Linked DNA regions of Homo sapiens. The protein of the gene in region 1 purifies or fractionates together with the protein of each later gene. This does not show direct contact. Each region holds a gene or a part of one and is shown in the gene's direction. Other genes may lie near its edges.

The links.
Region 2: the proteins of FGL1 (region 1) and AMMECR1L purify together in Homo sapiens (affinity purification with mass spectrometry; 4 studies listed by BioGRID and IntAct, with this or other methods). This does not show direct contact.
Region 3: the proteins of FGL1 (region 1) and NAXD purify together in Homo sapiens (affinity purification with mass spectrometry; 4 studies listed by BioGRID and IntAct, with this or other methods). This does not show direct contact.
Region 4: the proteins of FGL1 (region 1) and ETHE1 purify together in Homo sapiens (affinity purification with mass spectrometry; 4 studies listed by BioGRID and IntAct, with this or other methods). This does not show direct contact.
Region 5: the proteins of FGL1 (region 1) and LSG1 purify together in Homo sapiens (affinity purification with mass spectrometry; 4 studies listed by BioGRID and IntAct, with this or other methods). This does not show direct contact.
Region 6: the proteins of FGL1 (region 1) and ERCC3 purify together in Homo sapiens (affinity purification with mass spectrometry; 4 studies listed by BioGRID and IntAct, with this or other methods). This does not show direct contact.
Region 7: the proteins of FGL1 (region 1) and GOLM1 purify together in Homo sapiens (affinity purification with mass spectrometry; 4 studies listed by BioGRID and IntAct, with this or other methods). This does not show direct contact.

What each region holds. Positions count from the first base shown.
Region 1 is NC_000008.11:17,882,025-17,885,524, reverse strand, and holds part of FGL1 (fibrinogen-like protein 1 precursor), read left to right. Parts: coding exon 1-33; intron 34-3,345; coding exon 3,346-3,500. UniProt on the Homo sapiens protein: Immune suppressive molecule that inhibits antigen-specific T-cell activation by acting as a major ligand of LAG3. Responsible for LAG3 T-cell inhibitory function. Binds LAG3 independently from MHC class II (MHC-II).
Region 2 is NC_000002.12:127,883,157-127,887,256, reverse strand, and holds the start of AMMECR1L (AMMECR1-like protein), read left to right. Parts: upstream 1-1,300; 5' UTR 1,301-1,447; intron 1,448-2,396; exon of another isoform or gene 2,397-2,499; intron 2,500-2,944; 5' UTR 2,945-3,054; intron 3,055-4,100.
Region 3 is NC_000013.11:110,632,545-110,636,044, forward strand, and holds part of NAXD (ATP-dependent (S)-NAD(P)H-hydrate dehydratase), read left to right. Parts: intron 1-2,000; coding exon 2,001-2,051; intron 2,052-2,127; coding exon 2,128-2,232; intron 2,233-2,923; coding exon 2,924-3,044; intron 3,045-3,500. UniProt on the Homo sapiens protein: Catalyzes the dehydration of the S-form of NAD(P)HX at the expense of ATP, which is converted to ADP.
Region 4 is NC_000019.10:43,510,202-43,513,701, reverse strand, and holds part of ETHE1 (persulfide dioxygenase ETHE1, mitochondrial), read left to right. Parts: intron 1-2,135; coding exon 2,136-2,265; intron 2,266-3,500. UniProt on the Homo sapiens protein: Sulfur dioxygenase that plays an essential role in hydrogen sulfide catabolism in the mitochondrial matrix. Hydrogen sulfide (H(2)S) is first oxidized by SQRDL, giving rise to cysteine persulfide residues.
Region 5 is NC_000003.12:194,644,692-194,648,191, reverse strand, and holds part of LSG1 (large subunit GTPase 1 homolog), read left to right. Parts: intron 1-762; exon of another isoform or gene 763-1,948; coding exon 1,949-2,028; exon of another isoform or gene 2,029-3,445; coding exon 3,446-3,500. UniProt on the Homo sapiens protein: Functions as a GTPase. May act by mediating the release of NMD3 from the 60S ribosomal subunit after export into the cytoplasm during the 60S ribosomal subunit maturation.
Region 6 is NC_000002.12:127,284,145-127,287,644, reverse strand, and holds part of ERCC3 (general transcription and DNA repair factor IIH helicase/translocase subunit XPB), read left to right. Parts: intron 1-627; coding exon 628-942; intron 943-3,500. UniProt on the Homo sapiens protein: ATP-dependent 3'-5' DNA helicase/translocase. Binds dsDNA rather than ssDNA, unzipping it in a translocase rather than classical helicase activity. Component of the general transcription and DNA repair factor IIH (TFIIH) core complex.
Region 7 is NC_000009.12:86,037,059-86,040,558, reverse strand, and holds part of GOLM1 (Golgi membrane protein 1), read left to right. Parts: intron 1-3,500.

The sequences.
Region 1 (3,500 bases):
ACCACCGCTCTGACAATGGGCAGGGAAATTTCGGTAAGCTTCTTGGGAAAACTATTGTCATATTTATAATGCCTGCTTTTATCTGAATTTTCTTTCATTTTGCATTAAACCTATAGTGACTTGTCATTGAAAAAACTTAACTATGTGGGAAAAGCAAAGAGGCTGGTAGAAATACTGGACACATAGTAAAGCAGCACTTTAAAGCGCTTTACATTTTTGCAGGGGAGGCCGAGATGGGTGGATCACAAGGTCAGGAGTTCGCAACCAGCCTGGCCAATATGGTGAAACCCCATCTTTACTAAAAAAAATACAAAAAATTAGCCGGGCGTGATGGCACGCATCTGTAGTCCTAGCTACTCGTGAGGCTGAGGCAGGAGAATCCCTTGAACCCAGGAGGCGGAGATTGCAGTGAACTGAGATCATGCCACTTCACTCCAGCCTGGGCGACAGAGTGAGACTCCATCTCAAAAAAAAAAAAAGTGCTTTACATTTTTTTAAATAAAAAGTATTCATAATAAATAAGTAATTTTTAAAAATTCACTGGAGTTATTTGGTTGGAATATTAGAAATTTGAAACTGTCCATAGTAATTAAAATTAACCTTGAGCTTTTCAATATTGAAAAGTGTAAAACTAACCAGATTATTTGAAAGTAATTACATCGAACTTGTGTTGTCCTTCATTTGTGAATAAAAAAGACAAAACATTCATTCAAAGTTCTTGGAGAAAGAAAACTCCTAGGTTTTAAATAAGCTTACTAAATATGCGTATGCAATCTCATAAAGATTGGGCATACTTGACCTGTGATGTCTTCAATTATTTTAAAATTGCATAGTGCACTATGTTTAACAATATCACAACCGATCCCCCACTGTTGTAAAACAACTCAGGACCCAGACACCATAAAATGTTCTTGCTGTTCATTTTTTAGCCTATGTGACTCAAGGTGCTAAGCAAATAACTATCTCAGAAGGGATAAATCTGAGTGTTAGGGATAGAGTAACAAGAACAAATAAGAAGTAATCCTAGAGAGGCCTGGTGCAGTGGCTCACGCCTGTAATCCCAGCACTTTGAGGGGCCGAGGTGGGTGGATCGCTTGAAGCCAGAAGTTTGAGACCAGACTGGGCAACATGGCAAAACCCCATCTCTACTAAAAATACAAAAATTAGCTGGGTGTTATGGCACACAACCTGTATAGTCCCAGCTACTTGCCAGGATGAAGCACAAGAATCGCTTGAACCAGAGAGGCAGAGGTTGCAGGGAGCCGAGATCGCACCACTGCACTCCAGCCTGGGCAACAGAGCAAGACTCTGTTGAAAGAAAGAGAGAGAGAGAGAGAAGGAATCATCCTAGAAAAATGGCTGGGAGAGGTTCTGTGACTTGGACCTAGGGATGGGAAGAAAGGAAAGAAAGAAAAGAAAAGAAGGAAGGGAGGGAGGGAGGGAAGGAGAAAGAAAGGAAAAGAACAAAAGAAAAGAAAAAGAAGAGGAGAAAGAAATCATTTTAGAAAAATGGCTGGGAGAGGTTCTGTGACTTGGACCTAGGGATGGGAAGAAAGGAAAGAAAAGAAAGGAAGGAAGGAAGGGAGGGAAGGAGGGAAGGAGAAAGAGAGGAAAAGAACAAAAGAAAAGAAAAAGAAAAGAGGAGAAAGAAATCATCCTAGAAAAGATATCTGGGAGAGGTTCTGAGAAAGGAAACGTAAGGGAAGAGGAAGGGAAAGGGGAAGGGGAAGGAAAAGGGAGAAACCATCCTAGAAAAATGGCTGGGAGAGGTTCCATGACTTGGACCTAGAGATGGGAGGGAGGGGAGATGTACTACATATATATATATATAAAAAATATATATATATTATAGACTATATAAATATAAATGTATTATATATGCATATGTATTTGATATAATATATACTATATAAATCCATTATGTAATTTTATATATACGTATATTATGTATAAATATAATATATTATATAAAGTAGACTATAATATAATAAATACAATTATATTACATTATATTATATATAAATATATTTAATATATTATATATTATTTATATTTATATATTATATAATATCTATTCATTTATATTCATATATATTCATATTATATATTTTGTAATATATATTATATATTATTATTATATTGTATATTATTTTATATATTATATATTATTATTATATTATATATTATTTAATATATTATATATTATTATATGTTATTTAATATATTATATATGATATATATGATATATTATTTAATATATTATATATGATATATATTATATATTATTTAATATATTATATATGATATATATTATATATTATTTAATATATTATATATGATATATATTATATATTATTTAATATATTATATATGATATATATTATATATTATTTAATATATTATATATGATATATATTATTTAATATATTACATATGATATATATTATATATTTAATATATTACATATGATATATATTATATATTTAATATATTACATATGATATATATTATATATTTAATATATTACATATGATATATATTATATATTTAATATATTATATATGATATATATTATATATTATTTAATATATTATATATGAGATATATTATATATTATTTAATATATTATATATGAGATATATTATATATTATTTAATATATTATATATGATATATATTATATATTATTTAATATATTATATATGATATATTATATATTGTTTAATATATTATATACTATATATTATATATTGTTTAATATATTATATATTATATATATTATATATTATTTATATGCATATATAATATATATAATATATAATATACATTAAATATACATATTTAAAAGTATTTATACCAGACAGCCATTCAAAAACCTCATTTATTATGGAGATTTACATGCCAACAGTACAATTAACTTCTATAAACCACATTACTGTTTAGAAAACACATAAGCAATGTCATATAGAGATTGAGAGCACAGTCCTTGAACTGAATTTGAATCCCACCTCCGCTTACCCACTGGGCATCAAGACTGAGCCCTTTCCTACCGCATGGAATTGTTATGAGGATCAAAGGAGACAACTATAAAGCTCCTAGCATAGCGATTCCAATTATTTTATATTATTTGATCTTTTGAGTCCAGGAGTTTTCGCATAAGCCATAATTTCCAATTCTTCAAATAGTAGGCAGTATTAGAACTTTTCAAGCCACTTTCTCTTTGGAATAATATTCTGAAATGGGAACTGGAGACAAAATGGAATCACTGATTTATCCAAATGTTTAAAAAGCACTTGTTTTCCATGAAAATGAGGTGCATACTCATCTCATCTCACCTGTTTTGCAGGCGCTCGAGGACTGTGCCCAGGAGCAGATGCGGCTCAGAGCCCAGGTGCGCCTGCTTGAGACCCGGGTCAAACAGCAACAGGTCAAGATCAAGCAGCTTTTGCAGGAGAATGAAGTCCAGTTCCTTGATAAAGGAGATGAGAATACTGTCATTGA
Region 2 (4,100 bases), on another chromosome or scaffold:
CTTTGAGGACAAACATATCAAGGATTCCTTTGTGCATCAACAGAAAAGCAAAACACAAAACAGCCTATATGTGAGCATGGGGCCGTATTTTAATACAAGAAAGACATTGCTCTAGAACATGGCTCGCCTTTGCTTCAGGGCCTAGCAGTTTATTTTAGCCATAAGGGTAAGGGAGCAGGTCAGAAATGACTTTTAGTGTAATCCTATCTGTAATTAAAAATACAAATGCTGTCATAAGATCAAATGTTATCAAAAATCAGTATTTAAAATTAAATTTACCCCCAAATTTCTTTCAAAAAAAATTTGTAATGTTCTTTTTCAGTGAAGCCTTTGCACTGCTAGAGCTGAAGAATGTGATCAATCGGCTTGTTGAATAATCCTGCACAGTAGGTATTCCGCTGAAGCCAACTCTAGCTGGGGGCTCGAGAGCGAAAGACACAGATGGGGCCCTGCCGCCCCTCGAAGAGTCGGATGGGCGCGCCCGTCCCCGGTGCATCAAGAGGCTGGCCCGGCCAGGGGCGAGCGGCTGGCACCGAACCCCGCGCACTTCGCCGCGGGCGGGGCTGGGCCGTAGTCGGCTCGATTTAAGGCTGGTATCCAAGGCTGCGGCCGGTCAGGCGAGGCGAGGCGAGGCGACGTGAGCGAGGGTGCTTAGGGAGAACAGCCGCTGGCAGCTCAATGCTGGGTGGCTAACGCTCGACGGTGCCTGGCAGCAACCCGGCCGACAACCCGACGCGGATCCCGAGCTGCGTCGCGGACAATGCTGCGGGCCCGTCCCGGACTACGACTCCCGACGGGCTCTGCGACCGCTCCGGGGCGGCCCAGCGTGCACTGCGCCGGCCAGTTTTGACAGCCGGGCGCCCTACTCGGCTAGCTCTGCTCCCAGCCAGGGACGCTGGCCTTCTCGCGGCTTTCCCCCGATGTCTCTCTTTATTCCAGCTGCCTGAAACTCGGTCCCACGAATGGCAGGCAGCGTCCAAAATTCAACCCCGTAAAGCCAGCACCAGCCAATAAAGCGCACGGATGGAGGCCACGTGACAGCAGTGGGCCGGCCCTCCGGCTGAGCCCTGATCTCTATGGTTTCCGCGGCTCGCTAGAAGGAGTGTGGTCCACTGGAGGACTCCCTACATTCTTCCTCCATTACCTCACTGCCTCCGGTGGCTGCTGGGATACCGGAGGACTCGGGTCCCGGCTCGACTCAGTCCTCCAGCCGCCCGGGGAATACCTCTAGTTCTTCCCGGCCGCCGCCGCCGCCGCCGCCCCGCCGCTTCCTCCTCCGCCCGCCGGCCTCCTTCGCCCCGCCCCGTCCGCGCAGCGCGTCCGGCCCGCCCGCAGGCCAGCTTCTCTCGGGAGCCCCCACCCAGGCGCATGGCTCCATGAAGCAAGAGGAGGAGGCAGAGCGCGAGAGGTCCCGTCCGCCCCAGCCGCGTCTGGGCCAGGAGAAAAGGTGGGAAACTCGGGCTGCGCCGCACCCTTCTCCCCGCTGCCGGGCCAGGCCTCCCTCGGTCCGCCGCCGCCTTGCCCGCCGGGCCTGTTCTCGCCGGGGCGGGCGGCGGGGCCGGGAAGAGACCCCGCGGTCCTGGGGCGAGGGTCCGGGGGCAGCGGGGGGGAGGAGTCCCGGGCGGCGGGCGGGGCCTCAGGCCATGTCCCAGCGGAGGGCAGGGGGTCGGGAGGCACTGCCGGGGAGGGGCGGGCGGCGCCGTGCCCCGGGCCGCGAGGCTCGGCTCCCGCTCCTGGTCCTTGTCTGCACTCCCTCCAGGAAGCAGGCTCGCTCGCTGTAAAGTTTGGTGGTCTCCGGCGCCGCCTGGTGGCCCCCACCCACCGTCCCGCCGCCCCGCCGCCCCCTCCCCCGCCCGGCGTCTGGATTCCACCCCCGCGGCTCGGCCCAAGCTGCTCTACCCGTCGCTCCATCGTCTCCCCAACTCCCCAGCGCCCCGGACCCTCTTTCCTCATACCCTCGTTTCTCACCTTTCACCCTGTCCCTCGGCCCGCTTTTCCCCTCCCCGCTCTGTCCTGTCGTTTTCTTAACACTCTTCACACGCGCACTTTCTCCTCCTCCTCTTCTCTTTTTCGCACCCCTACTCTTGGGCCCTCCTTCCTTAACCTCCGCTGGCCCCCCATTCCATGATCCGTCCACCTGACACGCTGGGTTTCATGCCTCTCTTTCCCAGGCTGTGGGTTGTGCCCTTCACTCCTTGCCCTCCTACATTCCCTGTCCTGATCTGAACTCCTCTCCTTGCCATGCTCCCTCACCCTTATCCCTCTGGGCCTTATCCTCTTTCACTGCCCTCTCCTAGGATAGAGTGGGTGGGGCCTCTCCCACCCACAGGAGATGTAAACAGTCTCCTGTTTACTTACATCTTTGGGAGTAGCTCAATTCTCTAGTAGTGGGGAGAGTTGGTGAAGAGATCAGGAAGAGATTTCTTCGAGACTAAGGATGGATGACCCTTAGCAACAGTGACCGTCTCCTCCCGGCATAGCAAGATGGCCTGCCCTCAGGTCCCTGCCTCTGGCGTGCTGTCCAGTAATTCTTCAGTTCTGTCTTTGCAGAGGATTGGGAAATTTATTTGTGTTCTGAAACCGGCGGAGAGCTTTTAAATGGTCTCTTCTGGCCTGAGAGCAACTTTTGCTCTGCATCTGTGGTGGGGAAGTTTTAATGTGCGTCTCATGCTCGAGTTCAATAAATAAAACCTTTGATTCTCAGTGTCCTCCCTTCTTGCTGATGACGCTAAGGATGAGATGATTCAGGGCATGGGACTTCACGGCTGCCTCAGATTTAGAGTTTGCAAGGTTTTGAAATAAGGAGAGCCTGTTCTCTAGCTATTTGCTGTGCCCCCCACCCCCCCGAAATTGCTCTGTCGAGTTGTGATTTTTCAGAAACCGTATCTATCTTACCTCTGCACTACCTGGGTGTTTGTTCACTGCACCTGCATTTCCGTCTTAGGTACAGGAAGAAGGAATGGAATCGGAAGGAAGAAAATTCATTCCAGAGACAAAATAGCTCCCCTCCTCTGTTGTAGCTGTTCCTCTGGCAATACAAACTTTCTGCTTTCAGTGAGTATTATCTTGGGCATATTTAGAGTAGAGCATCGTTGTAGTTTTTGATTTTAGGCATGTGCTAGGATTTTGGGATGTAGGTGTGTTTTCATTTGTATTTTTCTACTTCCATGAGGGGGTCCTAATGTTGATGAAGTTTTTCCGCTTGTTCCCTTTTAAAATAATTTAAATATGCAAAGGCAAGTTTGTTTTTCATACTCCCATTAGAGTGAGCTAGGTGGTGGCGTGGCATGATCTTTCCTTTATATTTCTAGTTTGTAAGGTCTGGCTCCTCACCCTTCCCAAATGAGTTTCTCAATACAACCAAAGAGGTTGTCTTAAGTTTTAGGGTAATTAACTCAGAGGTTAATGCAGTTCCTGATCAAAGTCAATTATTGGTTCTCTTTTCTATAGTTTCAGTCCTGAGAGACTTTTGGAACATTTTGTCCTAAATTTGCAATAGTGAAGATATTTTCTTGAAAATCCCATCACAGATTTGAAGATAATTAAAATTTTTCACTGTAAACTTGAAACAAAGTTCTGGGGAAAAATTATGACTGCTGTGCCCTCTTGAGTTGATTAATGATAGTATGCTAACACTTAGGAGAGAGTTTTCAGAGTGTTTCACTTCTTGGTGAAGCCTCCCAGCCCCTCTGAGGGACACAGGGGATAAATGTTTTTATTTTACAAATGAAAGAACTGAGGCCCAGAAAAATGTGGCACCTTGCTACAGGTCACATAGAAAACAGAGGGGAGGTGAAAAGAGTTTTGACTCCTAGGTACATGTTTTTCTTTAAGCTAAGTTGAAATGAAAATGTATAGTTCTGGCCAGGCGCAGTGGCTCAAGCCTGTAATCCCAGCACTTTGGGAGGCCGAGGCAGGTGGATAACGAGGTCAAGAGATCAAGACATCCTGGCCAACATGGTGAAACCCCGTCTCTACTGAAAATACAAAAATTAGCCAGGTGTGGTGGCATGTGCCTGTAGTCCTCAGCTACTTGGGAGGCTGAGGCAGGAGAATCGCTTGAACCCGGGAGGTGGAGGTTGCAGTGAGCTGAGATCATG
Region 3 (3,500 bases), on another chromosome or scaffold:
GACACAAAGGTTCTCCACGTCCCCATCAGATTAGTTAGATACAGAGTTTCGACACACAGGTTCTCCAAGGCCCCACCAGAGCATCTAGATACAGAGTGTCGATAGGTGCACTCACAAACCCTGAGTTAGACACAGAGTGCTGATTGGTGTATTTACAAACCTTGAGCTAGATACAGAGTGCCGATTGGTGTATTTACAATCCCTGACCTAGACATAAAGGTTCTCCAAGGCCCCACCAGAGCAGCTAGATACAGAGTGTCGATTGGTGCATTCACAAACCCTGAGCTAAACACAGGGTGCTGATTGGTGCACTCACAAACCCTGAGCTAGACACAGGGTGCTGATTGGTGTGTTTACAATCCCTGAGCTAGATATAAAGACTCTCCACATCCCCACCAGACTCAGGAGCCCAGCTGGCTTCACCCAGTGGATCCCGCACCAGGGCTGCAGGTGGAGCTGCCTGCCAGTCCTGCGCCGTGCGTTCGCATTCCTCAGCCCTTGGGTGGTCGATGGGACTGGGTGCCGTGGAGCAGGGGGTGGTGCTCGTCGGGGAGGCTCGGGCCGCACAGGAGCCCATGGAGGGGGTGGGAGGCTCAGGCATGGCGGGCTGCAGGTCCCGAGCCCTGCCCGGCGGGAAGGCAGCTAAGGCCCGGTGAGAAATTGAGCACAGTGCCGGTGGGCTGGCACTGCTGCAGGACCCAGTACACCCTCTGCAGCCGCTGGCCCGGGTGCTAAGTCCCTCATTGCCCCGGGCCAGCAGGGCTGGCCGGCTGCTCCGAGTGCGGGGCCCGCCAAGCCCACGCCCACCCGGAACTCCAGCTGGCCCGCAAGCGCTGCAGGCAGCCCCAGTTCCCGCTCGCGCCTCTCCCTCCACACCTCCCTGCAAGCTGAGGGAGTGGGCTCCAGCCTTGGCCAGCCCAGAAAGGGGCTCCCACAGTGCAGTGGTGGGCTGAAGGGCTCCTCAAATGCCGCCAAAGTGGGAGCCCAGGCAGAGGAGGTGCTGAGAGCAAGCGAGGGCTCTGAGGACTGCCAGCATGCTGTCACCTCTCATTTTGTTTAATGTTTTCTATTTTAATGTTTTGTATTATCAGGTGTCTGTCAAGTCAGGATCACTTTACATGCTACTGCAGTGTATAATCTTGTCACAATGTATTGGCTCATAATAATAAAAACCACCAAATATTACATATATGTGTGTGTATCTATACATGTAGTTTTTTTTTTTTAATAGAAAACCTTTGAAACCTTCACTGTAATCCTATCAGGGAAAAATGATTCCCTGTTTATTATTGTTGTTATTTTAAAACGTGTAAGTAAAGTGATATGAAAAATACATAATGACTAATGATTTGGGGAATTCTCAGGAATTCAGATTTCCTGCCTCCGAATGCTGCGTATTAGTATCTGTTGGAGAACTGGATGCCCTTGCTGGGGCGGGGGCTGTCTTCATGGGTTAGCCTAGGAGCCCAGCTGTTGTTCATAGCGTTTCCAGTGGGCTTCGCCTTTCAGAGTTCCCAGTGTCCTGCCTTGTTTACGGGCTCTGCGAGTTCATTGGGTCTTTCTGCTTCTCTATTTTATTCATTTACTTGATTATTTTCCATTTATTGTTTGATGGCCTGATGTTGCATTTTATTAAGAGTCTGCTCAATTTTCTGTCACTCTTGGGAAAAGTGTCTTAGTCGGTTTTGCGCTGCTGTAGCCGTACCACAGACTGGGTAATTGATAATGAACAGGCGTTTACTGGCTCACAGTTCTGAAGGTGGATGTCCAACATCAAGGTGCCGGCATCTGGCGAGGGCAGAAGGGCAGGAGAGAGACCCTTATGCCTCTTTTAAAGGTCATTAAACCAACCCATGAGGACACTGCCACATCACCTTTTAAAGGCCCCACCTCCCAGGACCCTTCCCTTGGCAATTAAGTTTCACCATGAGTTTTGAGAAGACACATACCCACACCATAGCAGCAGGCATGGTGCTCAGTCTGGTTTTCTCTTCTGGCAGGGCATTTTGGAAGTGTCAAAGGCCAGGGACATCCCTGTTGTCATCGACGCGGTGAGTTGACTTCTCTCCTCCTGGCTCGGACTCCCGGAAGGCCTGTGCAGTGAGCACGGCTCCTTGTTCTGTGCAGGATGGCCTGTGGCTGGTCGCTCAGCAGCCGGCCCTCATCCATGGCTACCGGAAGGCTGTGCTCACTCCCAACCACGTGGAGTTCAGCAGACTGTATGACGCTGTGGTGAGTCAGTGGACCCCCTGGAGGGTAGATGCAAGCCCTGTTCGTCCTGAAGAGGGTGAAGGACGAGCTCCATGCTTCTGCCCAGCCTGTCCCTGTGGACACACCTGCAAGTAATCGCTGTGCCTCTCCCAGCGGATGGCGCGTCTTCCCATTAATGCGCTTGGATTGGATGAACGATGGTGTAGTGGGCTTGGGACAGGCAGGGACTCGGGTCAGTCAGCCCCTCCTGCAGTGCACTCTGGACAGGTCACTTTGTCTGTGTCCTGAGTGCCTCATCTGTAATGTGATGATGGCATCAGCTTCACGGGGTTGTGAGGATGAGATGAGGAAACCTATGTAAAGCCGTGAGTCCCCACATGGTAAGTGTCCCATCAATGTTAGTGCCCAGTACGACTGGAATTTGTATTACTCCTGCAAAGCTCTCAGAACCCAGTCTTGGGTGGTCCTCCTTCAGCCTGCTCTGATGAGGTAGAGGATGGGCACTGGAGCAGGCACCGTGTCAGCACCTGCTCGGAGGACTCACTGCAGGTGATATCCTGGGCATCCTCCCACCTACATGGCCTTTAACAGGTGCCTGGGTGATCCCTTTAGACACGAGAGCATGAGTCTCATGGCGGATGGGACAGGGCTATCTGTCGTCGTGTGTCTGAGGAAGACTTTGCTTTTTCTCTGTCTTCCTGTGTTGTCATAGCTCAGAGGCCCTATGGACAGCGATGACAGCCATGGATCTGTGCTAAGACTCAGCCAAGCCCTGGGCAACGTGACGGTGGTCCAGAAAGGAGAGCGCGACATCCTCTCCAACGGCCAGCAGGGTGAGTGGCGGCTGCCCTCTGTGCATGGGCCAGTGCCAGGTCAGTCAGCATGGCCACACCGAGCATGAGCCCTGGAAGACCTCTCCCGTGCACACCCGTGTTCACACACATTCACACAGGGATTCCTGATGAGCTCGTCAACCACACTTTCTTCAGAGTCCATGTTTTGACTTTTCACTGTTTTGCCAGGGGAGGTGACAGTGGTGAGGGCAGGCTTTCGAGCCGTGGGCCTTACCCGTTGGTTGAATTCCCTTGCCTCAGTTATGAGAAGCAGTCTGGCGGGAGGGTGCCTGCAACAGCAGGGCACAGTGCAGGGTCCCGCGTCTCCAGCTGCCACCTTCATCTCACCTGTGGCATCCACCATCCATGCAGTTATTTGGGTATTTTATTGCATTTCATTCTCTTTTATCAAAATGACTGGAAAGTGCAGAAAGCCCCGAAGCTGATGCTGGTAGT
Region 4 (3,500 bases), on another chromosome or scaffold:
TCTGAGACAAGGCAAGTCCCTCCCACCTATGGGCCTGTAAAATCAAAAGCAAGTTTAGTTATTTCATAGATACAGTGGGATCCAGGGATTGGGTAAATACATCCATTCTAAATGGAAGAAATTGGCCAAAATGAAGGGGCTGCAGGCTCCGTGCAAGTCCTAAATCCAGTGGGGCAGTCAAATCTTAAAGCTCCAAAAAGATCTTTTACTCCATGTCTCAAATCCAGGTCATGCTGATGCAAGAGGTGGGTTCCCATGGTCTTGGGCAGCTCTGCCCCTCTGGCTTTGCAGGGTACAGCCCCACTCCTGGCTGCTTTCACGGGCTGGTGTGGAGTATCTGTGGCTTTTCCAGGCACATGGTGCAAGCTCTCGGTGGATCTAACACTCTGGGTTCTGGAGGGCGATGGCCCTCTTCTCACAGCTCCACTAGGGGCAGTGCCCCAGTGGGAACTCTCTGTGGGGGCTCCCACTCCACATTTCCCTTCTGCACTGTCCTAGCAGAGGTTCCCTATGAAGGCTTCACCCCTGCAGCACACCTCTGCCTGGACATCCAGGCATTTCCATACAGCCTCTCAAATCTAGCTGGAGGCTCCCAAACCTCTGTTCTTGACTTCTGTTCACCAGCAGGCCCAGCACCACGTGTAAGCCACCAAGGCTTGGGGCTTGCACCCTCTGAAGCAATGGCCTGAGCTGTACTTGGCCCCTTTTAGCCCCGACTGGGATGCAGGGCACCAAGTCCTGAGACTGCACAAAACAGCAAGGCCATGGGCCCTGCCCATGAAACCATTTTTTCTCCTAGTCCTTTGGACCTGTGTTGGGAGAGGCTGCTGTGAAAACCTCTGACATGCCCTGGAGACATTTTTCCCATTGTCTTGGTGATTAACATTTGGCTCCTCGTTACTTATACAAATTTCTGCAGCAGGCTTGAATTTTTCCTCAGAAAATGGGTTTTTTTTTCTATCACATTGTCAGGCTGCAAATTTTCCAAACATTTATGCTCTATTTCCCTTTTAAACATAGGTTCCAATTCCAAACCATATCATTGTGAATACATAAAACTGAAGTGAATGCTTTTAACAGCACTCAAGTCACCTCTTGAATGCTTTTAACAGCACTCAAGTCACCTCTTGAATGCTTTCCTGCTGAGAAATTTCTTCTACTAGGTACCCTAAGTCATCTCTCTCAAGTTCAAAGTTCCACAGATCTCTAGGGCAGGGGCAAAATGCTGCCAGTCTCTTTGCTAACACATAACAAAAGTGACCTTTACCCCAGTTCCCAAAAAGTTCCTCATCTCCATGTAAGACCATGTCAGCCTGGACTTCATTGTTCATATCACTCTCGGCATATTGGTCAAAGCCACTCAACAAGTCTCTAGGAAGTTCCAAACTTTCCCACATTTTTCTGTCTTCTTCTGAGCCTTCCAAACTGTTCAAACCTCTGCTTGTTACCCAGTTCCAAAGTCACATTTTCACATCTCCTTATAGCAGCACCCCACTTTACTGGTACCAATTTACTGTATTAGTCTTTTCTCATGCTGCTAATAAAGACATCCCTAAGACTGGGTCATTTATAAAGAAAAAGAGGTTTAATGGACTCATAGTTCCACATGGCTGGGGAGGCCTCACAATCATGGTGGAAGGCGAAGGAGGAGCAAAGACCTGTCTTACATGGCAGCAGGCAAGAGAGAGTGTGCAGGGGAACTGCCCTTTATAAAACCATCAGATCTCGTGAGACTTATTCATCATCACGAGACAGCATGGGAAAAACCTGCCCCCATTATTCAATTACCTCCTGCCTGGTCCCTCCCATGACATATGAGGATTATGGGAGCTACAATTCAAGATGAGATTTGGGTGGGGACACAGCCAAACCATATCACCTTCCTAACCAGAGGTCAGATATTATTTGTATTTTTGTTGTTGTGTGTCACAGCTTTGCGGTTTTATTTTTCATGCATTTAAATCTTTAATCCACTTGGAGTTTACTCTGATAATATAAGATTACAGCCTGGGAATCTACATTTTTTACCAAAATGTTTATCTAGATAAGACCCTGGGGTAGGGTGGGGCTTTGGGGGCCAGTTTCATCTAGAAGGCTTCTTGGTGACTATCTCTGTACTCTTCCACCCCTGCCAGGCGTTGGAGACCAGGGCCAGCCCTGGCCACACCCCAGGCTGTGTCACCTTCGTCCTGAATGACCACAGCATGGCCTTCACTGGAGATGCCCTGTTGATCCGTGGGTGTGGGCGGACAGACTTCCAGCAAGGTGACCAGCTCCTTTATCCAGCCCAAGATCTTCATATAGTTACGTGTGTGTCAAGTGTTGAAGTATCTGTTACAAGAATGAATGGATGGACATTAGACTTTTAGGGGGCTTCAGTATTAAATTCAAGGAGTTTACCTGCTAGAACAGTGGTCCCCAACCTTTTTGGCACCAGGGACCGGTTTCGTGGAAGACAATTTTTCCATGGACCATGGCAGGGCATAGTTTCGGGGATTCAAATGCATTACATTTATTGTGCACTTTATTATTACATTGCAATAGATAATGAAATAATTATGTAACTCACCATCATGTAGAATCAGTGGGAGCCCTGAACTTGTTTTCCTGCAACTAGATGGTCACATCTGGGAGAGACGGAAGATAGTGACAGATCATCAGGCATTAGATTCTCATAAGGAGAACGCAACCTAGATCCCTCGCATGTGCAGTTCGCAATAGAGTTTGTGCTCCTATGAGAATCTAATGCTGCTGCGGATCTGACAGGAGGCAGAGCTCAGGTGGTAACGGGAGTGATGGGGAGTGGCTGTAACTACAGATGAAGCTTTGCTCACTCACCCACCGCTCACCACCTTCTGCACAGCCCAGTTCCTAACAGACCACGGACCGGTACCCAGGGTTAAGGACCCCCATGCTAGAGTATGGGAAGAGTTAGATTCAGGGGCTTAGCTGTTGGGGGACAGTTAGATTCAGGGGTGTGTTAGTTACCTATTTGAGCCCAGCTTGGGCAACATAGTGAGACTCCCTCTCTAAGAAACAAATATAGCTAAAAAAAAAAAAAAAACAAAGGGCTGGGCATGGTGGCTCACGCCTATAATCCCAGCACTTTGGGAGGCCGAGGCAGGTGGATCATGAGGTCAGGAGTTCAAGACCAGCCTGGCCAAGATGGTGAAACCCCGTCTCTACTAAAAATACAAAAATTAGCTGGCCATGGTGGTGGGTGCCTGTAGTCCCAGCTACTCGGGAGGCTGAGGCAGAGATTTACTTGAACCCAGGAGGCGGAGGTTGCAGTGAGCCAAGATTGCGCCACTGCACTCCAGCCTGGGTGACAGAGTGAGACTTCATCTCAAAAAAAAAAAAAAAAAAGATAAAAAAAGAAGTTGTTAAAGCCAGCGGTTTAATTGCCAGGGAGCAATGAATGATCCATTTGGAGTCTAGCTGCTAGGGGCAGTTAGATTTAGGAGCTTCCCTGTAGAAAGCGAGTATAGTTTCAGAATCTC
Region 5 (3,500 bases), on another chromosome or scaffold:
CTCTGTGTTTTATCCCAATTCCACGTGGGAACCTATGATTTCTTGCCTTAAATGTAAACTTTAAAGGTGGCCTGGAGAACCTTGTGTCTACCTAAAAAAAAAAAAAAAAAAAAAAATAGCAGTGTGGGAAACATTTCCGTGCGTGGGTGACTTGCCTTTACAGGGATTGCTGCTGGTTGGGAAGGAGTTCAGCTTATTTGAGTATTTACTGGCAGAGAAAGGTGAAAGGTGATTTGATATGAATCACACTTAAACCTTGAACTTAGAGACTCTAAAGAGGATAAATACTAAACACTTGTGGTAAGACTATTCTAATTACAGATTCATAGAACAAGAAAAGACCTTAAAGATCACCTCACCTCCTAGCCCCTGCTTTTAAGAGTAATCATCCGAACTCAGAGCCTGAGCTGACCCAAGGTGAGGTGGCTGGTCAGTGGAATAGCCTGGGTGAGATCTCCCTGCAGGATGTTAGCCTGCAAAATGCAGAAAGGTGGACTTCCACCAAACTTCCAGTTTGATTGTACTTCCGATACAACTGAAAATAATGTGAGTCTTTTAAGATGTTTCATCTAATGCTGCCTGATAAAATCAGAGTAAGGAAAAAGCCAGTTTGTAAAAGCAAATGACCACACGTACAATTTCTAAGTTCACTATCTGCAAGTCCATATAGAAGAAAATCTCTGACAGTAAATTTTCAAAGATATTGCCAGATTACTCTCATTTTACTTTGTATTTCTTTAAATACTAGTGAAGTTGAGCATCTTTCCAAATGTTTTGTGACCATTTATTTTTCTTCTGGGAATCACATTTTCCTATACATGGTTCTGTCTTAATGATTTGTAAAAGTTCTTTGTTATATGTGCTACACATTTTTTCCAATGTTAATTTATGGTTTCTTTGGCCCCAAAGAAGTTGACAATTTTAATAGACTATATTTTTCCTTTTTGGTTTGACTGGGTTTGGTGTTTTACTTGGGAAGGTCTTCTCCCTCCCAAAAAGATAAAACTATCTTCCTGTAATATTTACTTACTTTTTTAACATTTAGATTTTTAATCTGACGAAATTTATTGTTGTATATTGTGTAAATTAGGATTCTAACTATTTTCTTCGAAACTGGAAAAGCCAGTCGACAGCTAGTATGTGAGGGAACTGAGTTTTGAACGCAGCCTGTCTGCTGAAGCCGTGTTCTTAACCACCATGCTTCGCTGCTTTTCTAATTGAGTTAGTATTAAAGGGATCTTACTGGGGAAAAAAATGTAGGTACATCATTCAGTAAGAAAACTTCTCTGTTGCTTTCTGTTTTGCAAGTAGTATTGATAGCGTAGCATTCTCCTACAGGTAGCCTCCATGAATAAATGTTTAAAATAAGGAGGCTGGGTGTAGTGCCTCACGCTTGTAATCCCAGCACTTTGGGAGGCCGAAGTGGGTGGATCACCTGAGGTCAGGAGTTCAAGACCAGCCTGAACAACGTGGTGAAACCCCATCTCTACTAAAAATACAAAAAGTAGCCAGGCGTGGTGGCATGCGCCTGTAATCCCAGGTACTTGGGAGGCTGAGGCATCAGAATTGCTTGAACCTGGGAGGTGGAGGTTGCAGTGAGCCAAGATTGTGCCTCTGCACTCCAGCCTGGGCAACAGAACGAGACTCCATCTCAACAAAAAATAAAATAAAAATAAAATAAAGAGAAGAAATAACTGGAGTAGAGAGAAATCGAATTTGTCTTTCATAGCGTGGTGCTAGGTGGCATTTTTAGGATATCAGATATAAGTAAATATTCTCCTGGATTATCTAGTGTTTTTAATGCTAAACAATATATATTCTACAATGATACCTAATTTTTTAAAATCCAAGAGTAAGAATGCTTAGTAATAGAAGCTACATCACCTCAGTTGTCTTTGTTGTGATATTCTGTCATCTAAGATTTTGCAAAATTCTTTTCTCTCCACAGACATGCGAGGATTCATGACAGCGCATGGACAGCCAGACCAGCCTCGATCTGCGCGCTACATCCTGAAGGACTATGTCAGTGTAAGTGAACCCTGCCTCTCATGCTCTCCAATACACAAGTCTTTTCCACATTCTGCGTTCTTAGATAATGGTAACCTGTTCGATTATAAAGGAAATATTTTTTCATTGAAACTGGAGTTGTGTTCTTGATGTAGGGTAGTTAACATTATATGGATTATAGACATTACAAAAGATGGAGATCTCTGAACACCTATTATGAGTGAAAATCACCAATATATGCATCTGGCTTTTTTTGTCTCCTACAGCCCTTTGCTTGTTATGATTGCAACTATTGTCACAGTCTTCTTTGTAGTATAGCTGTTTATATGCCTATCTCTATATTTGCCTAGTAACGATAACAGCTAACATTTCTTGAAAGCTAACCCTGCTAGAAATAGTTCTGTTTTACGTGCGTCTTCTCAGTACAAATATGTAACAAGTCTGTGAGATTACTATTTCTCCTTTTCAAATGAGAACATGCTATTTGGGGGTTTCCCCATAGTAAAATGGAGATGAACAGGGCCTATCTCATGAGATTATTATGGGAAATAAATGAAAACTCTGTGTGTGTGTGTGTGTGTGTGTGTGTGTGTGTGTGTGTGTGTGTGTCTGTCTGTGTGTGTGTGTGTGTGTGTGTGTGTGTGTGTGTCTGTCTGTGTGTGTGTGTGTGTGTGTGTGTGTGTGTGTGTAGCACTAAGCTCAATGCCTGGCACATAATGAGCCCCCAGTAATTGTTATCTATTAAGTTTCTTTCCACAAATAAGCATTACAGGGCCCTGTTAATAACCAGTTGTGAGGATTTGGCTTTATTTCCTCCTCTTCTCAAGACCACATCGGTGGAGCTCTTGGAGCTCAGTGGCAACCATATGGGCTTGCCTTCAGTTCAGGAAGAAAGCAGTTCATGCTATTGGTATGGATAAGTCATGTATTCGTTTACCACTTACTGTGGAGGATGTAAAGATGAGGTAAAAATAGTCACAGCCTTCAGATCATTTATGATGGAAAGAGGCAGACTTGCACCCAGTGAGCAACTGCAACCCCACATACAGGAGTCGAGGAACTCTCCTGACTTTAACAGTCTAACCCGGCATTACCGTAACTGTCCAGTTATGTCTTGAGTTTTGTTTTGGAAAATATTCACCATAAGTATGATCATGTCCGTATACTGAAGAATACTTGAGTGGGAATGCAAACGAGAAAAGAAGAAAGAGATTTCATCCTAGTCTGGGGCGCCATGGGAAGAGCTAGGTCTCTAGAACACTTTGACCATTGATGTATTAGAAAAAGGACTCTTCAGCTGCAGTAGACCAAAACTCAACTCAGCTAACTTAACCAGAAGGCAGAAAGCTCCATCAGAGTGTGACTGGGTGGAGCTGTCTCCTCTGAGGCCACAGATGGCACTTAGGCTGCACTGTTGTCATTCATGTTGTCTTTGTAGGGTAAGCTGCTGTACTGCCATCCTCCTCCTGGAAGAGATCCTGTAACTTTTCAGC
Region 6 (3,500 bases), on another chromosome or scaffold:
TTTTTCTTTTTGAGACAGAGTCTTGCTCCGTTGCCCATGCTGGAGTGTAGTGGCGCCATCTTGGCTCACCACAACCTCCGCCTACTGGGTTCAAGATATTCTCCTGCCTCAGCCTCCCAAGTGACCGGGATTATAGGCGCCCGCCACCATGCCCGGCTAATTTTTTGTATTTTTAGTAAAGATAGGGTTTCACCATGTTGGCCAGGCTGGTCTTGAACTCCTGACCTCATGTGATCTACCCACCTCGGCCTCCCAAAGTGCTGGGATTACAGGTATGAGCCACCGTGGCATGGTGGCTCAGCCAGGTTTTTCTATCTTTAAAATAACAATAACAGGCATTTCTCTTCTCACTGGTTTGTTTTGAGATTTTGACATTTAAATGAGATGTGTGTAAAGTGCTACAGTAGGCCCCAGCGCCTGCCATTTCTCACATATGTATGTGAAGTGGGCATGTCTCCTCATTATAAAGAAGAAAACAGGCTGGAGCAGTGTGTGTCGCTCAGATGTCAGCTATGTGGACTGTTACAAGACATTTTCCTAGATTGCTGTACTTGTGAGTCATTCTGCCTGTCCCTGTCCTTCATTTCAACCTGTCCTTGGGTGGGATTGCACTCTTGTTTCTTGTAGGTGCTGGAAAGTCCCTGGTTGGTGTGACTGCTGCATGCACTGTCAGAAAACGCTGTCTGGTGCTGGGCAACTCAGCTGTTTCTGTGGAGCAGTGGAAAGCCCAGTTCAAGATGTGGTCCACCATTGACGACAGCCAGATCTGCCGGTTCACCTCCGATGCCAAGGACAAGCCCATCGGCTGCTCCGTTGCCATTAGCACCTACTCCATGCTGGGCCACACCACCAAAAGGTCCTGGGAGGCCGAGCGAGTCATGGAGTGGCTCAAGACCCAGGAGTGGGGCCTCATGATCCTGGATGAAGTGCACACCATACCAGGTAAGCAGGCTGGAGCTGAGCTGTCCACTTGCTGAACAGACAAACCAATTTCCAGTTGTTAGGTTGGGAAAGGGACTGCTGTGTAGCCCACCCAACTGGCTAGAAAGACTTGCTGGCTTGCTGGGTAAAGCTTTTAATAGTTCTTTTTTTTTTTTTTGAGAGGGAGTCTCACTCTGTCACCCAAGCTGGAGTGCAGTGGCACGATCTCAGCTCACCACAACTTCCACCTCCCAGGTTCAAGCAGTTCTCTGCCTCAGCCTCTGAGTAGCTGGGATTACAGGCACCTGCCACCATGCTAGGCTAATTTTTGTATTTTTGTAGAGACAGGGTTTCCCCATCTTGGCCAGGCTGGTCTTGAACTCCTGACCTCGTGATCCACCCACCTCATCCTCCCAAAGTGCTGGGATTACAGGCGTGAGCCACCGTGCCCGGCCAGTAATTCTTAAGTGGGATGCAGGCAGGAGTGTTCACATTCACAGTTTGCTTAATCACTGGCTCAGTAGTGATTTAGAAAATGATATTTTCTTTCCTCCATCTTCCTTTTGCTGCTCAGCTTCATCCGTTTTTTAATGGCCCTCTAAAAACTGGGTTAGGAGCACTGAAAAGCCCTTCCCAAAATGGTGGTGATGTGTTTTATTTGAAGCCCGGAATATTGATCCTTAGTCAATATGTAATAGAAGCCCTACTTCTCCAAGTATCATGGGCAAACCTTTTTTTTTTAAGCTGCTCTATTGATTTAATTTATATACCATAAAATCACCCCTTGTAAATATATAATCCAATGAGTTTTAGTAAATTTGTGGACCAGTGCAACCATGACCATGATCCAAGTTTTCTTTTCTTTTTTTTTTTGAGATGGCATCTTGCTTTGTTGCCCAGGCTGGAGTGCAGTCGTGTGATCTTGGCCCACTGCAACCTCCGCCTCTAGGGTTCAACTGATTCCCCTGCCTCAGCCTCCCAAGTAGCTGGGACTACAGGTGTGTACTACCACACCCGGCTAATTTTTTTTTATTTGAGACAGTTTCGCTCTTGTTGCCCAGGCTGGAGTGCAGTGGTGCAATCTCAGCTCACTGGAAGCTCTGCCTCCCGGGTTCAAGTGATTCTCCTGCCTCAGCCTCCCGAGTAGCTAGGATTACAGGTGTGCGCCACCATGCCCAGCTAATTTTATATTTTTAGTAGAGACAGGGTTTCTCCGTGTTGGTCAGGCTGGTCTCAAACTCCTGACTTCAGGTGATCCGCCCACCTCAGCCTCACCCTGGGATTACAGGCGTAAAGTACCACACCTGGCCAAATTTTTGTATTTTTAGTAGAGAAAGGGTTTCGCCATGTTAGCCAGGCTGGTCTTGAAGTCCAGACTTTAAGTGATCTGCCTGCTTGGGCCTCCCAAAGTACTGGGATTATAGACGTGAGCCACTGCATTCGGCCACCATGATCCAGTTTTAGATTTCCTTTGTACTCATTTGCAGTCAATCTTTGTTTCTCTATCTAGCTTCAGATGACTACTGAACTGCTGTCACTATAGATTTGCTTTTTATGGAAAATTTATATAAACACAATCATACAATATATATTATGTCTGGCTTCTTTCACTTCCCATAATGATTCATCTGTGCCTTAGCATTTATCAGTAGTTTGTTCCTTTTATTGCTGTATAGTTTTTTGGGCGAATCTTTTTTGATAAAAACAGATTAAGGGATTAAGATTAACAAATTAGGAGTGGGCATGGTGGCTGACACCTGTAGTCTCCTAGCACTTTGGGAGGCCAGGGCAGGAGGATTGCTTGAGCCCAGGAGCTTAAGATTAGCCTGGGTAACATAGTGAGACATGTCTCTACAAAAAAAAATTTTTTTAATTAGCCAAGTGTGGTGGTGTGCACCTGTGGTCTCAGCTGCTGAGGAGGCTGAGGTGGGAGGATCACTTGAACCTGGGAGGTTGAGGCTGCAGTGAACCATGATTGTGCAACTGTACTCCAGCATGGGTGACAGAGTGTGAGACTCTGTCTCAAAAAAAAAAAATAAAGATGAACAGATTAGGGTAAATTAAGGAGTCTAATAGAGGTTACTATGAACAAAATGAAATCTGAGGCATTTTCACAGGTAGTGTTCAAAATGTCAAAATGGCCCCAGCATCTGGTTCTTTCTGTGCATGAGAGCTCTTCAGCCCTGATGGGTTTCTGGAGATACCTAGAGATGTTCACAGCTGGCCAGGGAGGGATTGGAGGTCTTTCTGATGGAAGCCCAGGGTGTGGGCCCTGCTGTGGGAAAGTACTTGGCATAGTGAGACAGCACAAGGTGGCCATGCGGCCAGAGGAGAGCATAGGAACAGTAGTCAAGGCTGAGGAAGATTAGCGGTATTGGGGCAGGTCTTGTAGGACCTTGTAGGCCACGACAAGAACTTTGGCTTGTACTCTTAGTGTGAAGCCATCTGAGGGATTTGAGCAGAGCATGACATGAGTTGACTTTACACTGTAAAAATACTGCCCTGGCTGCTGTGCTGGAAATAGACTGAAGGAAGCAAGACAGAAGCGGTGAGGTGAGTTTGTGGAATCCCAGTAAGGA
Region 7 (3,500 bases), on another chromosome or scaffold:
CCTCCAGCCCCGCTTCACAAGCTCAGGGCTTTACGGGAATTATCGTATTTAAAGCTCGCAGCCAGCCTGGGAGAGAGTTGCTGTTTTCCTGACTTGAGGACCCCAGCCCCATGGGAGGGGTTAAGTTCTGTGGCCAGTGTCACACCACCTGGTCAGTGGTAGAGCCCATCAAGACCTCAGGTCTGGCCGACTCCATGTCTCGTGCTGTCATTCCACCTCCTGTGCAGAGCACAGCCCACGAAGCTGCTGCTTGAAGCCTTCTGGGTGATCTTTGAGTAGTTTTTTAAAAATATAGCAGCTTTATTAAGATATAATTTGCATTCCCTATGATTCACCCATAGAAAATTTACAATTCATGGGTTCTGAGTATATTCACAAAGTTATGCAGCCATCACCACAGTCAATTTCAGAACATTTTTATTGGCACAAAAGAAACCGTGTATCCCTTAGTTCTCTCTTCAGTCCCCACAGCCCTAGACAGCCAACTGCTAATGTACTTTGTGTCTCTTGATTTGCCTAATCTGGACAATTTCCTGTCAATAGAATCATATATGTGTGGCCTTTTGTGTCTGACTTTTTTTTTTTTTTTTTGAGAGGGCATCTCGCTCTCTCACCCAGGCCAGAGTGCAGTGGCGCGATCTCAGCTCACTGCAGCCTCTGCCTCCCAGGTTCAAGCGATTCTCCTGCCTCAGCCTCCCGAGTAGCTGGGATTACAGGCACCCACCACCACACCTGGCTAATTTTTGTATTTTTAGTAGAGACGGGGTTTCATCATGTTGGCCAGGCTGGTCTTGAACGGCTGACCTCAAGTGATCCACCCACCTCGGCCTCCCAAAGTGCTGGGATTACAGGCGTGAGCCACCACGCCCGGACTGTCTGGTATCTTTGACTGAGTATGAATACCTCAGGGCTCATCGGGGTTGCAGCATGTGTCTGTACTGCATTCCCTTTAATGGCTGATTAATCCATCCTGTGGATAGACCACATGTGGATTATTCATCATCAGTTGATGGGCATTTGGAGTGTTTCCATGTTTTGGCTATTATGAATAATGCCGTATGAACATGAAGCTTTTGTGTGGTCATATGTTTTCATTTCTCTTGGTTAATACCTAGGAGTGGAACTGCTGGGTTATATGGTAATCTATATTTAACCTATTGAGGAACTCCCAGACTTCTTCCAAAGTGGCCATACCATTTTCGACTGCCACCAGTAGTTTATGAGGGCTCCAGTTTCTTCACATCCTTGCCAACTCTTGATACTACCTTTTTCATGATACCCTTCCTAGCAGGTGTGGAGTGGCAGCTCGTTGTTTGGGTTTGCATTTCCCTAATAACTGTGATATCCCTGATGATATTCAGCATCTTTTCACATGTTTCATTGGCCATTTGTATATCTTCTTTGAAGAAATGTCTATTTGGGTCCTTTGCTCATTTTTTAATTGAGTTATTTTTATTATTGAATTGTAAGAGTTTTTAAAATCTATTTTATTAAAGATATATGATAATGGATATATGATTTGCAAGTTTTTTTTCCCAATTCTGTGGGGTTTTTCACTTTCTTGCTGGTGTTTAGTTGAAGCACAGAAGTTCTTAATTTTGACAAAATCCCCATTTTATTTATTTTTTCTTTTGTTGTGTGTTCTTGGTATTATATCTAGTAACACTTTGCCTGACCCAAGATCTTGAAGATTTACTGTTACATTTTCTTCTCAGAGTTTTATCGTTCTTAGTTCTTACGTTTAAGCCTGTGATTCATTTTCAGTTAATTTAATTATTGCATATGGTGTGAGGTAGAGCTCCCACTTCATTCTTGTGTGTGTGCGGTTATCAAGTTGTCTCAGTAATCACTTGTTGAAAGAAAGACTGCTTTTCCCCCACTGAATTGTCTTGGCACCTTTGTCAGAAATCAGTGTGCTGTAAGTATGAGGGTTTTTAGTGAGCCTGAGTGTTTTAGTGAGCCTGAGTCCCTTGGCTGTGAATGTCCCCTATGCTTCTCTTCAGTACCCACTCCCTACCCCAGTGGGACAAAGTGGCTGGAATGGGCTGGAGTTGAGTAGCTTCCTTCTCCCACGTGGAAGTCTAGAGCTTACTGGAGTTGGGTGTTTCATTCCCCCAGGTCAGTTAGGCTCAGATAATATGCCCGCAGGAGCTCTGGGTAATGCGCTCCTCGTGAGGGCCGGCCTGGTTAAGGAGAATAGAGCACTCTGGCCTGTTTCAGAATGGTTCCTTTCCCCGCCACACTGCTGGAAGCACAAGCCGATTTTTCTCTGATGTTCACTGAGAGCCTTTCTCTAATATTCACTGAGAGCCTGGTTGAGCTCCTAGGGGTAAAACTCATAAGTATGGGAGTCCCTTATGACTGGGGCAGGTTTTTTCTTTTTCTTTTTTTTTTTTTTCTTTTGGTGTTGGAGTTTTGCTTTTATCGCCCAGGCTGGAGTGCAATGGCGCAATCTTGGCTCACCACAACCTCTGCCTCCCGGGTTGAAGCAATTCTCCTGCCTCAGCCTCCCGAGTAGCTGGGATTACAGGCATGCGCTACCACACCTGGCTAATTTTGTATTTTTTAGTATATCGGGGTTTCTCCATGTTGGTCAAGCTGGTCTTGAACTCCCGACCTCAGGTGATCAGCCCGTCTCAGCCTCCCAAAGTACTGGCATTACAGGCATTAGCCACCACGCCTGGCTGGGGCAGGTTTTTAACTCTCAGACTCATCCACACTGAGCCTCAAACAGTTCATAAATGACAGGGTCAGGCTCTCCCACCCTGACACCAGTTCCCGTGGTGATGTCTGCCCAAGCCTGTCCTGGTGAGCCGGGACTCTCTGTATTGGGCTGTCTGTCTCCAGGCTTAAGGACAGTGATTTACACTCTGTCCTCACCTCTCCTATGGATCCAAGAAGAGCTGATAACTTTTCAGTCTGTTTAGTTTTTTACTTGTTAGGACTAAGTGGTGACTTTTAAGCTTCTCACGTGAGGAACAGAAAACTGGAAGTCTTCTAATACAGATGCTTGAAGGTGTACATTTCTTCTAAGCACTGCTGGAGCTGCTTCCCATAAGTTTTGGTATGCTGTGTTTTTGTTTTGTGGCAAAGCATTTTCTTTTTTTTTTTTTTTTTTTTGAGAGACAGTCTCGCTCTGTCGCCCCAGGCTGGAATGCAATGGCATGATCTTGGCTCACTGCAACCTCCACCTCCCAGGTTCAAGCGATTTTCCTGCCTCAGCTGGAAATCACCTCCTTGCCTCACCTCCCAAGTAGCTGGAATCACAGGTGCCTGCCACCACACCTGGCTAATTTTTGTATTTTTAGTAGAGATGGGGTTTCACCATGTTGGCAAGGCTGGTCTCAAACTTCTGACCTCTGGTGATCTGCCTGCCTCGGCCTCCCAAAGTGCTGGGATTACAGGTGTGCGCCACCGCGCCTGGCTGTCCAAGCATTTTCTAATTTGTGTTGTGGTTTATTGTTGGACTCACTGGTTATTTAGGAGTGTGTTGTTTAATT